Linked DNA regions of Homo sapiens. The protein of the gene in region 3 purifies or fractionates together with the protein of the main gene of each other region. This does not show direct contact. Each region holds a gene or a part of one and is shown on either strand. Other genes may lie near its edges. The genes, in order: LIMS2, GCA, PARVA and DHX36.

Region 1 (3,921 bases), on a different chromosome or scaffold from region 3:
GGGCACTGATCCTCCCAAACTAGGGTGGGAGAAAGCCTTGGAGGGGCTCACTGGCATTCAGATACCAGGCCCACACGCCACTGAGGAACACACTCACCCAGCAAGTCCCAACAGGAGGAGGTACTCATTAAGCACCCTGGCAGTCAAGTGACGACAAGCATTGGGTACAGTATAATTTGTAAATGTAGTCCAATTCCAAAGTTGCCCAACACTGATCAGTTCAACAAATAGTTTTTAAAGGTGGCCCCAGGGGCTAAAGGGCATGGAGAAGCTGAGCCCAGAGGAGCCAAAATGAATAGGGAATACCGCTGACTCTCTGATGTAGGTAGCCGAATGCTTAAGAAAACTTACACCGAAAATGTTCTTAACAGCAGCTACAAGTCAATGCCATAGGGCCTAGACCCTCTCACCACTCCCGACTCAGCCCATCCATGTGGAAATCCTCAACACTAGAATCCAGGACTCTCATGCAGACCCGCAGTTTTCTGTAAGGAGGAAACATTTATTTAGGGCTCCAAGGGTCACATATAGCACTGGAAAGGAGGCTACAGCCACAAGTGTTTTGTGCAACATAATCTGTAAATGAAGTTCAAGCACAAGTTTACCAAGTACTAATCAATTCAACAAATATTTACTATAAAAGCGGACATCGAAGGCTAGAAATTGAGAGAGGCTTAGAGTCTGATTGAGCCCAAATCCCAAATCTCTGCACAACCTTACCACCCATTCTGCAGCCTGTCCTGCTGCAGGGATGGGATTGGGAGCCACAGATACTGTAAACTGAATCTAGAACTCTATACAAAGTATTATACACCATGACCAAATGGGATTTGGTTCAGTGCTCTGGCTCTAGATATTTGCAAAAACACCGAGAGTGATGTCAGCAGAAAGTGGTGGAGTAAGGACCTCCAGAAGTTCATCCCTCCATAAAAGCAATGAAAAACCTAGCAAAAATTATCAGAATCTACTCTTTCAGAACTCTGCAAATCCACCAAAGGTTTTCAGTAACCCTAGGAACATTTGGTCAAGAAAAACAGATGAATCTTGGTAAACAAACAAACAAACACAAACCAGTGAGGTTTGTGTTGTTTTAACTTATCCTAGTCCCTTATTCCTGCTCCCTAACTCCATGGCTTCCTTGAATAATAATAGCTCGTGGTCCCAGTAAGGAGGTAGCAGAATGGAATATTATGAACAACTGTATGCCAATAAATGAAATAACCTACTGAAATGGAGAGATTCCTAGAAGGACACTACCAAAACGAACTCAAGAAGAAATAGAAAATCCAAATGTATCAGTCTAAATTTTCATACTGCTATTAAGAACTTCATGAGACTCGGTAAATTATAAAGGAAAGAGGTTTAATCGACTCACAGTTGAACAGGGCTGGGGAGGACTCAGGAAACTTATAGTCGTGGCAGAAGGCAAAGGGGAATCAAGGCACCTTCTTCACAAGGTGGCAGGAAGAAATACCAAGCAAAGGGGGATGAGCCCCTTATAAAACCAGCAGATCTTGTGAGAACTCACTATCACAAGAACAGCATGGGGGGAAACACCCCCATGATTGAATGACCTCCACCTGGTCTCTCCCTTGACACGTGGGGATTATAGGGATTACAATTCAAGATGAGATTTAGTTGGGGACACAAAGCCTACCCAAATCACTTAGTAAGGCCAGTAACATGTAAAGAGACTGAGACAGTAACCAAAAAACTTGTCACAAAGTAAAGCCAGAGCGACATGGCTTCACTGATGAATTATATCAAAGGTTTAACTAGAATTAACACCAAACCTACAAACAAACATACAAAACACCAGTGTGGTGGCACATGCCTATAATCCCAGCTACTCAGGAGGCTGAGGCAGGAGAATCACTTGAACCTGGAAGGCGGAGGTTGCAGTGAGCTGAGATCACGCCACTGCACTCCAGCCTGGGTGACAGAGTGAGATCTTGTCTCAAAAAGAGAAAAAAACAAAAAACAAAAAACAACAAACCTTCACAAAATCTTTCCAAACAAAAGAAAAGAAAGACTAGGAGGGAATACTTCACAACTCATTCTATAAATATTATCTTGATCTCAAAATAAAATGCTAAAGTCACATAGATGCAAATGTCCTCGATAAAATACAATAAATCTAACACTCTATAAAAAGTATTATACACCGTGACCAAATGGGATTTATCCCAAGAACATAGGGTTGGTTTCACATCCAAAATTCAATGTAATATACCATATCAATAGAATATAGGGAGGACACTCTATGACCATCTCAACAGATGCAGAAAACACATTTGGCAAAATCCAACATCTTTTCATAATAAAAGCACCCAACAAACTGGGAATAGAAGGGAACTTCTTCAATTTGATAAGGGGCATCTACCCAAAACCCATAGCTAACATCATACTTAGTGATGAGAAAATGAATGCTTTCCTCCTAAGGTCAGGGGGATTTCCAGTCCGCTATTTGTTTTCAACATTGCACTGCAGATTCTATCAAGGACAGTTAGACAAGAAAAAGAAATAAAAGACATCTAGTTTGAGAAGGAAGAGTAAAACTATTTTTATTTACATATTACATACTCATATATAGAAAACTCGGAAGAATCCCTCCTCAAAAAAAGAAACCCTATTTACAGATAAGAAATGAGTTCAGTAAGTCTGCAAGGTATACACTCAATATACCAGAATCGCTAGCAATGAGAAATCTGAATATGAAATAAAACAACCCCATTTGGGACAGCATCAAAATGAATAAAATACTTAGGAGTAAGTTTAACAAAATAAATGCAAGACTTCTTATTCACTGAAATTATAAAACATTATTGATATAAATTAAAGAAGACCTAAATAAAGATATCCCATGTTCATGGATTGGAAAACTTAATATTGTTAAGATGGCAATACAACACTACATCAAATTGACCTATAGATTCAATACAATCTCCATTAAAATTCCTGCCTTTTTTAAAGAAATAGACAAGGCATTCCTAAAATTTATATGAAAATGCAAGTGACACAGAATAATCAAAACAACTTTAAAAAAAAACAAAGAGGCCAGGTGCAGTGGCTCACACCTGTAATCCTAGCACTTTGGGAGGCCAAGGCAGGTGGATCACTTGAGGTCAGGAGTTCAAGACTACCCTGGCCCACATGGCAAAACCCGATCTCTACTACAAATATAAAAATTAGCCAGGTGTGGTGGCACATACCTGTAGTCCCAGCTACTCAGAAGGCTGAGGCAGGAGAATCGCTTGAACCCAGGAGGTGGAGGTTGCAGTGAGCTGAGATCAGGCCACTGCATTCCACCCTGGGTGACAGAGTGAGACTCCGTCTCAAAAAAAAAAAAAAAAAAAAAAAAAAAAAAAAAAAAAAAAAAACACCTTACTTAAAAATTACAATTTACTTACTAAAAAATTGTAAGTGTGGCAGTGGTGTAAGGATAGACATATACACCCATAGAACAGAACCAAGAGTCCAGAAATAGGCTGGGTGCAGTGGCTCACGCCTATAATCCCAGTACTTTGGAAGGCTGAGGCAGGCAGAGCCCAGGAATTCAAGACCAGCCTGGGCAACATGGCAAAATCTCATCTCTACAAAAAATACAGAAAGTAGCCAGGTGTGGTGGTGTGTACCTGTGGTTCCAGCTACTCAGGAGGCTCAGGTAGGAGGATCACCTGAGCCCAGGGAGGTTGAGACTGCAATGTACCAAGATCTTGCCACTGCACTCCAGCCTGGGTGAAAGAGTGAAACCCTGTCTCGAGAGTCCAAAAATAATCCCATATATTTGTGGTCAACTGATTTTTGACAAGAGTGCCAAGACCATTCAATGGGGCGAAGAGTAGTCTTATCAACAAATGATGCTAGGACAACTGGATAGCTACATGCTAACAGTATAAAACTCCTAGAAGAAAACAGATG
Region 2 (3,921 bases), on a different chromosome or scaffold from region 3:
ATTGAGTCTTTCATTTCTGCTTTTCATTAATATCCAAGAGCTTCTGTTCTATTTTCATGAATGTGATATTGTCCCTTATCTCTCTGAGACTATTAATATATTTTTAAAGTTTTTTCTTCCTATATAACCTTTGTTTTTTCCAGATTGTTTTTTCTCCTCATTTTGCTTGTTTTGGTTGTCTTTCATGTTAGGTGCTTTTCTCAGTTATCTGATGATACTGCTTTGCTCTTATTTTAACTAAATTGCTGATTAGAAGCCCTGAGATCATGGTTAGGCATTGATTGTGGGCTTCACTGTATGGTGATTTGGCTGGGCAGTTTTGTCTTGGAACTCTGGGTGTCAGTATCTTTAGGGATTCCCTTTTGGACTGGGTTTTCAGTTGACCTTCTGCCTGGAAAGGAGAGGTGGACTCAGAAGGGTTCTCAAATCTTTTGTAAATTGTCCTTTAATTGCCTTGCTTTTAGAAGATAGCCCTGTCTCAGCTCTGGTATCTTACATTTCAGAGACTCCTCCAGAGAATAAAATTCCAGATTTCTGCTGGGTTGGAAGTAGGTGTAGCATCCATCCAACTGAACCGAGGCAGGGAGGGGATATGAGGCTTAGAATGCTCCTTAGGTAGACATTCAGCCAATTCTTCTGTTTTTATCTCCACTTTCACACCCACTTTCAGAAGTACTGCCAATTCTTTGGCATTTGGGGTCTTCTCCAAGGGTTGCTTCTCAGCTTTTCTCATTACAAGTTCAGGAATCCATTTTCTCAGATCTAGGTTGGTTAACTCACATCCATCAGCTCTTCAACTTGCAAAATTTTGTTACTTTGTTTCCTGTCTAATTCTCTTTTTCTCTAAAGTTTTATGCCTTAAATCAGTTTACTCTCCATTCTAATGGGCTATGGGGAGGAAGTGAAAAATCTGTCAACTTTCCTGAAAAGTCTGTCTCTCCACTCTTTGTCCTAAATATTTCTTCTTATACATACACATTCCTATTCTGAGATTGAAGATCTGCTCATTTGCTGATTCAGTTTTAGCGATCTATTATCATTAATTCGGATTCTCCCACTTTATGAATGTGTGCCAAGTTAATTGTAAAGCAAAATAGATATTATTTACTTGCCCAAAAGAGGAAATACCATTCCAGAAATTTCTCATGTAATCCCCTCACTCTGACAGTTGTATAGCCTTAGCTTTGTAAACGTGGGGAACTGCCTTTCTGGGTCCCAGTTTCTTCCTTTTTTACAATTGGAACTATTATACGTTTAGCATGTTTATGTGAAATCATGTAACACACGCCACCTTACTCATGCTAAGAACACATTGAGTATCTATTGAGTTGTCAATTTGAAAATACTACAACCAACAATTCTAACATTGATACTATATTAAACATTTAAAGAAAATCAGCAATTTTAACTCTTGGAATGTCTTATAATTTTTTCTTTAGTGGGTCTAAAATTTAGCTGAAATAATTTTCTGCTTTTATAAAATGTTAAGATGTTATGGATAAAATAATTTTGAAAATTTTCATTCATTCATATTAACAAGCTGCTATTAAGCACTTTGTAAATTTAAACTGTACTAACGTGATGTTTTCTTTATCAGGGCATGAAATTAGTCTTGAGATATGTCAGCATACAAATTGAATGTAATTGGATTAGAAAAATTAGAAAAGGATTAGAAAAATTGAATTTTATCAATAGGTCATCAGTTGTAGTTCTATAAATATGAAAGTGTTAATATTTCAAATCACCCCTGGTTTTAAGATAGCTTGTATTGATTTTTTCTTCCTTTTTTCTCCCCCCAACCCCCGAGAAAAACCAGTTGCTTCAATTCAGATGCTCATTTTTTCTTACTTGGTCTATTACAATAAATTACCAATGGACTTACCTATTTCCAATATCATCTCACTTTATATTTTATTCATTGTAAACTAAGTTTCTAAAATGGAAATTTTAGAATTTCCCTTCTGCTTCTGAAAACACTTCAGTGGCTTTTCATTGGCCCAAACTTTTTGGGGGTAGTATTCAAAAGTTTCATGATTTGGCCCTCATTTGCCTTTCTGATGTCATCATATGTCACTCTCTCCCATATACTTTAATGCAAGTTTTGTGATCTCTGAGTACATGTCAAACTTCTACTTTAACTCCACTTGTCATTTGTGTTATGAAGACTGGAAGCCTTCCTTTTCCCCAGGCTTGGGTGAAGCCAAGTGCTTTACATACCTGGAATGTCTTTGTCACAGTAATTTTCAGTTAGTTTGTAATTGCTCATTTAATTAACTTAGTCCCCTCACTAGATGTGAGTACTTTGAAGGCAGTAATTTTTTTTAAACAATGGGTGCTTAACATTCAATAATAGCTTGTTGATTGTGGTGATTTTATATATTTTGGCAGTTTTTTAATGTTTTATTTTGAAACTGGAGATTGTCATAATTTTACATAGATAAAGTTGGGCATACTCTAATTTAAATATTGAATATGTTTTACAGCCTTCAGTTTGGAAACCTGCAGAATTATGATTGCCATGTTGGATGTATCCTTGAATAGAAATAGAAAATACTAGAATAAAGAGTAATTGCTTTCTGACTATCAAGCCAGTGGTTAGATTTCAGTGCCTGTAGTAAACTAGTGAATTTAAAAATACTTTGTAAGATCCTGTTTAAATTCTAGGCTTTCTAGTTTTTATGCAGAAGTCTGTTCATATAATGAGTTTGGCTAAGTCTACAGAAGCATACTCATGTTTTAGTCAATGATTTAGAGTCAGATAAACTCAGGTATCAGAATTTATTTTTGTTAATAAAACTATCAGAGAGATCACACAGGAAAAATGGGATTTAATGCATTCAAAGAGCTATGGGCAGCTCTTAATGCCTGGAAGGAAAACTTCATGACTGTTGATCAAGATGGAAGTGGCACAGTAGAACATCATGAGTTGCGTCAAGCCATTGGTCTTATGGGTAAGAACATTAACATTCTTTAGAATCTATAAAGCTAATCTTTGTTCTTTGATTAGATGAACTTAATTGCTTCAATTTACTAACTAATAAAGGGATGTATTTTTTTGCCAGCAAGTTCCTTTGTTTGTTTTCAAGGTTGTAGGTAAATTCTGACCAAAGACCTCAACAAAACCATTTTAATTATGATTTTTTTCAAAAGATGATCTTCCATACATGCATACATTCTGAATTTCTTCTGTTGTGTTTAAATTTATTTCTTTGTTAGTACTTACCAGTTAGATTGTATTCTTTTATAACTTGGCAGGATATCTAATTGGGAGCCAAAGCTTGCCTCAGTCAGTCAAAAGTCTGTACAAAATAGGTTTTCAGTGGTAGAAACCATGTTTTTGTCTTTTTTTTCTTAGATAGTGCAGAACACATAGCAGGTGCCAAAATACATCAGGATGGAAAGGTTGCATTTTAGAGTAATTTAGAAGTATATAACTTTATTCTTATACCTCTGATAAGCTGATGTTCCTAGTGTACTTTTAAAATGGATAACATACAATGGTGTTTAATTTGCTTAAACTTAATGCAGTTTTAAGTAGCTTTATGAATTGTTCTTATGCTTGTGATTTACACTCTTCTAAACAAAATCTATTTGTATGAAAATTAATTTTTTGGAAGTTAAAATCTGAACCCAATGGAAGTGGGCTTATCTCAAATTGCAATTTAAATAAGTCAAATTAGTGATTTGTTTGGTTTTGTTTTATAAATAGACATTTTAATTTAGTAGTAGGGACAGTCCAGCCCATATAAACATATGTAGTTCAATTATAGATCCTTAATACCTAATGGATTAAACCTGGACCTTAATTCAGCCTAATGTTGGGAAATTAATGTAATCTTTGGCAGAAAAGAAAACCTCCAGAGTTCCCGTTAGGCAGTGGAATGTAAAAAGGGTATTCTGGATTATCCAAATTTAAGATCT
Region 3 (3,921 bases):
CTGGATAAAGAAAATGTGGTACATATACACCATGGAACACTATGCAGCCATGAATAAAGAAAGGATCATGTAATTTGCAGCGACGTGGATGGAGCTGGAGGCCATTATCCTTAGCAAACTAACAGGAGCAGAAAACCAAATATGGCATGTCCTCACTTAAATCATGAGAACATACTTGATGATCTTGTGATGGAACCTTTCTACATCCATGCTGTCTGGTGTTGTAGGTACCAGCCACCTGTGGCCATTGAGTACTTGAAATGTGGTTGGTGCAGCTACGGAGCGGAATTTTTAATTCACTGAAATTTAAATAGCTCAAGTGGCTAGTAGCTACTGTATTGGACAGTGCCGATCAGTGTAGCTACAGGAGAGAAAGTCCCAGGCAGGAGCAAGTTCCTTCATTGGCCAGTAAGCCTAGCCTTGCAGCCACATTTAAACATGACTTTATTTCCACTGCTCACTCCTTGCGTAGCAATGCTTGTTAACAAAGTAATGAAAATTGTGCTTCTTTGTGAGAAATAGCCTGAGAAAGAAAGAAAACTGGTAGTTCTAGGGGAGATATTAGAAGAAACTATAGAATTTTAAGGAAACAGTTGTGCTTAGCTGGAAAACAAACACAATCTGTACCTACAGAATCATTTAAGCCAGGGATGTCCAATCTTTTGGCTTCCCTGGGCCACATTGGAAGGAGGAGGATTGTCTTAGGCCACACATAAAATACACTAAACACTAATGATAGCTGATGAGCTATTAAAAATCTCCAGATAATGTCATAATGTTTTAAGAAAGTTTATGAATTTGTGTTGGGCTGCATTCAAAGCCATCCTGGACCACATTGCAGCCCGTGAGCTGTGGGTTGGACAAGCTTGATTTAAGCTTTGAAGGTACCCCTTCTGTGTTTCTGTCATGTTTTATGGAGAATTCTATGAAATAGTCGGTGTCTGTGAATGTGGAGATCAAGGTGGTGACTGGCTGGTACCCTATGTGAATGTCAAAGACCTGCTGCAAAGGTACTAAATACCAGCCTCGCCATGCAAGTTGTGTCTCTTAGGGCGTAGAGAGTGTTTCACTCCCTTTGTTTCTCAGTCTCCTTCCAGTCCAACTGCAGCTATCAGTGAGTGTATTGAGGTGAAAGAACTCTTTGTAAGTGGCTGCCTTGTGCTTAGGATTTCTTGCAAGTCTATGCTGGCAATTGGTGAGGCCAGAGTCAATAAAAAAAATAAAATGGAAAGATGGGACGCTGCTTTTATTAAGGTTGATTGCAGCTGCTGTATTAGCTCTTTAAGAACCTCTTGGTGACCAACGCCTTCTGAGAAAATGGCCTTTCTGTGCTTAATTGGCAAAAAGCAAGGGGATTTAAGTCACTGCTTTTAGGAGGGGTAATCCAAGGTCAGCACTCACCAAACGTCTGTCACACAACTGGTTTTGTGGGAGGAATTCTTTTGTACTAAGGCTCCATGTGGGGGCTGGTCACTTGGAGGAGCGTGGGCTGGTAATCTTTGGTAGTTTTTACCTGTTTTTGTTTTTCTTTCTGAGGAAGGTGGAATTACAGATTTCTAGGATTTGAAGACTGTAAAAGAGCTTACTGTTCATCCAGTCAAACTCTATTTTCAGCTGAGGAAATGGGCCAAGAGAGATGAAGTGCCTGGCCCCAGGTCCCACAGCTGGTTCCATCTCAAGGGATAGGACCAGAGCTCAGGGAAGGGCCAGAACTGAGGTATTTTTGAGCAGTGGCTGGGGTTGGGTGGAGGTGGGAAGGCAGATAATCAGGAGAGTACCTCAGGGAAGCCAGGAGAGGTGAGAAGTCAGAGGACGGTTGAACGGAGGATGGAAATGCCTTACAGCGTACATATAGCCTCAAACCCATGACCCCATTCATCCTGTCAGCACACAGTCGCCGGGCACCAGACAGGAAGTCCTGGAAGATGGGACAGGCAGGAGGTAGAGACTCAGAAAGAAGTCAGTGCCCACCTCGCTTCCATTCATTCCGAAATCTTTTCTGAGAGGAGGGAGATTTCTGTGCTTTTGAGACCTCCCTGCTTCCCTGAGGAAAGCAAGTGAAGTGACAGCTGGCAGAGGTGAGATTAAGGGGACAATTAGGTCCTTTCAGCCAGGCGAGGCCATGAATTGATCGTAGGCTGAGTAACAGCTGTAATCTACCCTTAGTGGGTTTTTTTCTCAATGTCAATATCGAACACCCTTGTTACAGAGCTCCAACCCCCTGCCGTCCGTCAGCTGAAATGTGACCCTGCTCTTCCTTTTCTTCCAGTGTCCGAGCTGCAGGAGGAGGGAATGAACGCCATCAACCTGCCCCTCAGCCCAATTCCCTTTGAGCTGGACCCCGAGGACACGATGCTGGGTAACTGTGCTCTTGTCTCTGAATTCGCTTAAGCTTTCCCATGCCAGCACCCCCACTGAATTCCTTTTCTTTTTAAAGAGGAGAATGAGGTGCGAACAATGGTGGATCCAAACTCACGCAGTGACCCCAAGCTTCAAGAACTGATGAAGGTAAGAAGAAATCAGGAGCGGCTTCAGGTGCCTCACTGACCCACCATGTGTCCATATGCCACCTGCTCTGTGCAGGTACCCCACGAGCCCCTGAGAGAAGGTAAAAAGTCATGGCAGCCCCTGCCTCAGGCAGTGAGTTGTCTAGCAGATGGCCATCGAAAACGTAACCGATTGTTTAAGTGTGGGATGTGACAAATGCCCAGTGAGTGGTGCTGGTCACAGCACCAGACAGTTCAGTACAGGTAAGCTCACGATGGCCAGGATTCCAGAGTGCACAAAATGCTTATTTTCTCAAGGACCCTCAAAAGCAGGCAGTGGAGCAGTAATTAGTCTCATCCCCATTTTCCAGATGACAAAATCAAGTTTCAGAAAAGCCAGATGCTTTGTTTATGGTCATAAACAAGGAGCTGGAACTCAAGCAGAAATAAAGGAGATGAAGTGACATACTGTGCATTACGTACCTGCGCAGTGGCTGGCGTGCGCTTGTCCTTTCAAAACTGTTCATTTCTCCCCTGCGTCTTATTCCCTGTCCTATGTTCCTCCTCTTCAGCTTAACCAAGCTGCACTTAAGACAAAAGGCACTCATGAGTGTCATCCCAGCACTCTGCGGAGGCCAAGGCGGGCGGATCACTTGAGCTCAGGAGTTCGAGACCAGCCTGGGCAATGCGATGAAACATCATCTCTACTGAAAGTACAAAAAATTAGCTGGTGGGTGGATCACTTGAAGCCTGGGCAACAGGGTGAAACACCATCTCTACTAAAAATACAAAAAGTAGCCAAGTGTGGTGGCGCATGACTGTAATCCCAGACCATCTCTACTAAAAATACAAAAAGTAGCCAAGTGTGGTGGCGCATGACTGTAATCCCAGCTACTCGGGAGGCTGAGGTGGGAGGATGGCTTGAACTTGGGAGGCAGAGGTTGCAGTGAGCCATGACCACGCCACTGCACTCCAGCCTGACCCTGTCTCAAAAAAAAAAAAAAAATAGCACTGGATGTCAGAGTGATTCATTCCCCCATGCAAATCTGAATACACGGTTCCCCTGTGCAAGACCTCTCAGAGTTTCTCATCCACCACAGGTTGCAGTCGACTCCTAAGAGGTGGTGTTTAGACTCCTTGCTCTAGCTGCCTCTTCAACCTGAGATCAGCCACTACCCAGCAACACAAGGATGCCAGAACTGCTGCTCCCAGCAGCCGATGCGTGCTCCCAGCGCTCCCCACCGCCAAAGCCTGGCTAATGCAGTCCACTCTGAGTAGAATGCCTCTCATGCCCCTCATCTGAAAGTCTCAGCACGGCTGCTTGCTCCAGGAAGCTTGCTCTAAACTCTAGTGCCATGGCTCAACCACTCCACGGCTGCTATAACCCTATCCTTAGTTCTGTTGTCGTCTCCACGTAATATTATAGCTTCTCATG
Region 4 (4,000 bases), on a different chromosome or scaffold from region 3:
ATGGCTCACGCCTGTAATCCCAGCACTTTGGGAGGCCAGGGCTGGTGGATCACCTGAGGTCAGGAGCTCAAGACCAGCCTGGCCAACATGGCAAAACCCTGTCTCTTCTAAAAATACAAAAATTAGCCAAGTGTGGTGGTGCACACCCGTAATCTCAGCTACTCAGGAAGCAGAGGGTGCAGTGAGCCGAGATCACACCACTGCACTCCAGACTGGGCAACAGAGTGAGACTCCAACTCAAAAAAAAAAAAAAAAAGTCTTCATTTTGAAAACACATGACATGACTTTAAAAGTGAAAGCTACCGAAATTCTGACTGGGAAACAATGATATCAAGCTAAAGGTGGTCAAAGAAGAGCTGGGACGAGCCCATTGAAAAATACTCCTATTTAAACAAGAAAGAAAGGTACATTTTGGACAGGAGAACAGTATGACACTGTAATGAAAAGTAAAAATAAAGTATGCCTAAAAAAACTATAATTATATCAGACTGGAGACATGGGCTCAGAGAAATGTGCACAGCGGTAAACCTGTTACGTTGAAGCCGTATTACCAAGATTTCCAGAGAACATGTCAAGATGCAACTGAAATATATCAGACTGAGACAGAAGTGACATGACTTCCAATCTGAAGTTGTGAATTAGGTAATAAAATGATCTAATTTTTCCTTTTAAAAGATCACCATAGGCGGCTCTGTAAAGCACAGACAATGCAGAGCAAGAATGGAAGCTAGATGACTAGTTAGAAGGCAAGAACAGAAAACAAACAGTGGCTTGATCTATGGTAACTATTCTGGAGGTAAGTGGTTAGATTGGGATATATTAACAAGGCAGAGATTTGCTGAAATGAAGGGGAAGAAGCAAAGATAAATCTCATTTGGCCTTGCCAAGTGAATAAATGGTCGTGTCACCACTAAAAGGAGGATGGGAACGCAAGTAGAAATGAAAAGTTCCATTCATAACATCCACTGCACAACTGGCTATACCCTTCATGTGGAAACAATAATGAACATTTTTTCCTGACTTATTTAACTTTTCATCTGTTTAGGTATTATTTTCTCAGCTAGACTGTAAGCTCTTTGAATACCACATTTCTTCAAGTCCCTGGAGCAATATGCATAAAACCTTGTTTCAAACAGAGCCTTAATAAATAAAAGTTGTAAAGTTACTTAGACGTCCGTATCCTGATTTTCAAGCCAGTATGCCCAACGAAAAAGTTAATTTGGGGCTGTAAAAGAAATGGATTTGTTTTTTAAAGAAAAGTTTAAATTATGAAGATAAATGGATAAGGCCCCCAAAACACCTGAATGAACATGACATGGTTAAAAGAAATAAAAAGAAATGGAACGGTTTAAAAATAGTAGTCTAGGCCTGGCGTGGTGGCTCACGCCTGTAATCCCAGCACTTTGGGAGGCCGAGTTGGGTGGATCACCTGAGGTCAGGAGTTCGAGACCAACCTGGCCAACATGGTGAAACCCCGTCTCTACTAAAAATACAAAAATTAGCCGGAGGTGGTGGCGGACGCCTGTAATCCCAGCTACTCGGGAGGCTGAAGCAGGAGAATCGCTTGAACTTGGGAGGCGGAGGTTGCAGTGAGCTAAGATCGTGCCACTGCACTCCAGCCTGGGCGACAGAGTGAGACCCTGTCTTAAAAAAAAAAAAAGTTGCCTAAATGATGATCTAATTACACTCTATAATACATTTTATAAGGTGCTTTTAAAAAGTCACCAAAGGCCTATACTAAGAAAGTTCCTGCTTAATGATAAAAATTATTTTTTATTAGAATTTTATTTACTAGTCACTCGGAGAACTTTGTTTCCCTTACTACAGATCTTTAAGACACAAATCAACCTGACAATCACCTGAAGAGAGGAGAGTAAGCCAAATCATCTCTGGAGATTCCTTTCATTTTCCTTTTCAAAGAGAATCTGCTCATCAATAGAAATTTCTCCACCCCAACATAAAAAACAAAAACCTAGGTTTGCAGATAATTTTAACACTAATAATAAAAGCTGGACTATTTTTCTGAATGATCCACATCCAAAACAGTGTCTGCCTGCTTTTGTTCCGCGCAAACCTATCTCAAATGTAGAAAGGTCGCTATGTGCTTCTTCACCAGGCAAAGACCTTAAAGTGACAATTATTATTCTAAGGGAAAGGACGGCCAGAGATACGACAACGACACTCCTAATAAAGTTAATTTCGGTTGGAACGTGAACTTAACATTTGCTTTGTCACAGTTCTCAAGTCCTTTAAGCAAAGTATATATTCAGCCTGCATAAATCCTGCCTGTTTTTGGTCAGATGAGCATGGCTAATGTTACGCAGTACACCCGCTACGGGGAGCGCCAGCATAATATATTTGCGCCTCATTTACATTTCACAAAACACGTGCATCACTTAAGAAACAAAACCAAGAAAAAGGGGGCAGCGGGAGAGAGAAGAAAACCTGTGCTGCCTCATCCTCTCCACTACTGAATCCGAGATTACCTCTTGCCTCTCCGCTTCCTTGTTCTTCTGCCCCTGTTTTTTCGCGTACCACATGCCGATTTCGCGGCCTTTCAGGTGCCCGGGATGCCGGCCCCTGCCGCCTCGACCACCCCCTCCGCCGCCGCCGCCTCCTCCGGAGCCTCGGTTACCTCCATGACCCCCTGCTGGCCCCCCTCCATAGCCCCCACCGGAGCTGCGGGGACCCCCATCACGGCCCCAGTTCTGATGGTAGTCATAACTCATTGTCCTGGCAGACTACAACCCGTCAGAACCAGCAACCGCTGGAAATGGCGTCCGGGCCCGGAAGCCACTGTGCGCCCACTTCCGTTTTGCTTCCGTAGCACCGCACAAGAGGGCGGGCCATTTAGCGTCACAAGCAGTGGTTTCTGGTGACGTCACGGGAGGACGACCCCGGTGGTCTGGAGGGTGGCAGGGATCAGGTTCTGTCTGAGCCCCCGAGTTGTTTATCTTTGTACCTCTGGAGCAACAGCCAGCCAAAGGCTCGTAGATTTTCTTTCCCTAGGCCCAGCAAGTGAGCCAATAGCTTTTGGTTTTTACTTTCTTATTCCTGGTAAATCCGCAGTTTTTTTGCACTTAGGTCCTAGGGTAGTAAACGTTGATTGAAACAAAAGAACCCTTGGATCAATTCGCCGTCTTCTAAAGAAAAGTCTCTAAAAAATGAGTTCTTCTAGTCTTGAAAACAGCCTGACAACTATTCAAATATGTAATTTAAAATCCCCTTACCTCCTTGAAAGTGTTGTCACTATTTAGTACGTTTATCCAATAGTGTTAAGATGAGCGTGTCTACCCAAATTCGGTGCAGAGCTCTTAGGCAATGTAAATAAACTACTTTGAAGATTCATGTGTTCATATGAAGCCACATACTGTTTATTAACCAGCACACTGAGTGTTTTGTACAAGCTGTTCTTGAATAATCAAGTAATTGGGCCACACAGGCTTGGATGTACACCAGGAGATATCCAGCTCATGTTACAGTTAACTGATGTAAAGGTGCTGGGAATACTCACTGAACAAAGCAAGTATGGCATGAGCTTTTATTTGCCTACAGTCTTAAGGGAAAGACAAAGGCTATCTTTGTGCAGTGAATTAAGAAAGGGAAATGCTGTATGCCAGGAAGGGGTCTACAATACACCATTGTGGCCTAAAAATTATTTTGAGCAAAGACATTTGAGTTTCTGAAATCTACCTGTCTAAATGCAGAACCACACGGAGGAATTCAAATCAAGCTCCTCCCTGGGAGGGAAACCCAGGAAGACTGACTCTTATCACTGGAGGTTAGAAGCTGGCAACACACTTGAATAGACATTGTCACAAAGCTATCATATCTGGCATCTGTTTTAAGGTGTCATTTATTTTTACTAAAAGTCATTTGTTTTTTCCATACGTGCTGTTTTCCCCTTTCCTTCCCTTTATAAGATGGTAGATAAGTCAGAACTCTACCTCCCTGAATCACCTTTTTCTGTGAACTCTATTATGTATGTGGTTAAGTCTGT

The links.
Region 1: the proteins of PARVA (region 3) and LIMS2 purify together in Homo sapiens (affinity purification with mass spectrometry; one large-scale study listed by BioGRID and IntAct). This does not show direct contact.
Region 2: the proteins of PARVA (region 3) and GCA purify together in Homo sapiens (affinity purification with mass spectrometry; 2 studies listed by BioGRID and IntAct, with this or other methods). This does not show direct contact.
Region 4: the proteins of PARVA (region 3) and DHX36 purify together in Homo sapiens (affinity purification with mass spectrometry; one large-scale study listed by BioGRID and IntAct). This does not show direct contact.

Annotation. Positions count from the first base shown.
Region 1 is NC_000002.12:127,665,332-127,669,252, forward strand, and holds part of LIMS2 (LIM and senescent cell antigen-like-containing domain protein 2), read right to left. Parts: intron 1-3,921. UniProt on the Homo sapiens protein: Adapter protein in a cytoplasmic complex linking beta-integrins to the actin cytoskeleton, bridges the complex to cell surface receptor tyrosine kinases and growth factor receptors. Plays a role in modulating cell spreading and migration.
Region 2 is NC_000002.12:162,353,955-162,357,875, forward strand, and holds part of GCA (grancalcin), read left to right. Parts: intron 1-2,483; coding exon 2,484-2,527; intron 2,528-2,803; coding exon 2,804-2,951; intron 2,952-3,921. UniProt on the Homo sapiens protein: Calcium-binding protein that may play a role in the adhesion of neutrophils to fibronectin. May play a role in the formation of focal adhesions.
Region 3 is NC_000011.10:12,471,476-12,475,396, forward strand, and holds part of PARVA (alpha-parvin), read left to right. Parts: intron 1-2,269; coding exon 2,270-2,359; intron 2,360-2,437; coding exon 2,438-2,508; intron 2,509-3,921. UniProt on the Homo sapiens protein: Plays a role in sarcomere organization and in smooth muscle cell contraction. Required for normal development of the embryonic cardiovascular system, and for normal septation of the heart outflow tract.
Region 4 is NC_000003.12:154,321,688-154,325,687, forward strand, and holds the start of DHX36 (ATP-dependent DNA/RNA helicase DHX36), read right to left. Parts: upstream 2,801-4,000; 5' UTR 2,730-2,800; coding exon 2,487-2,729; intron 1-2,486.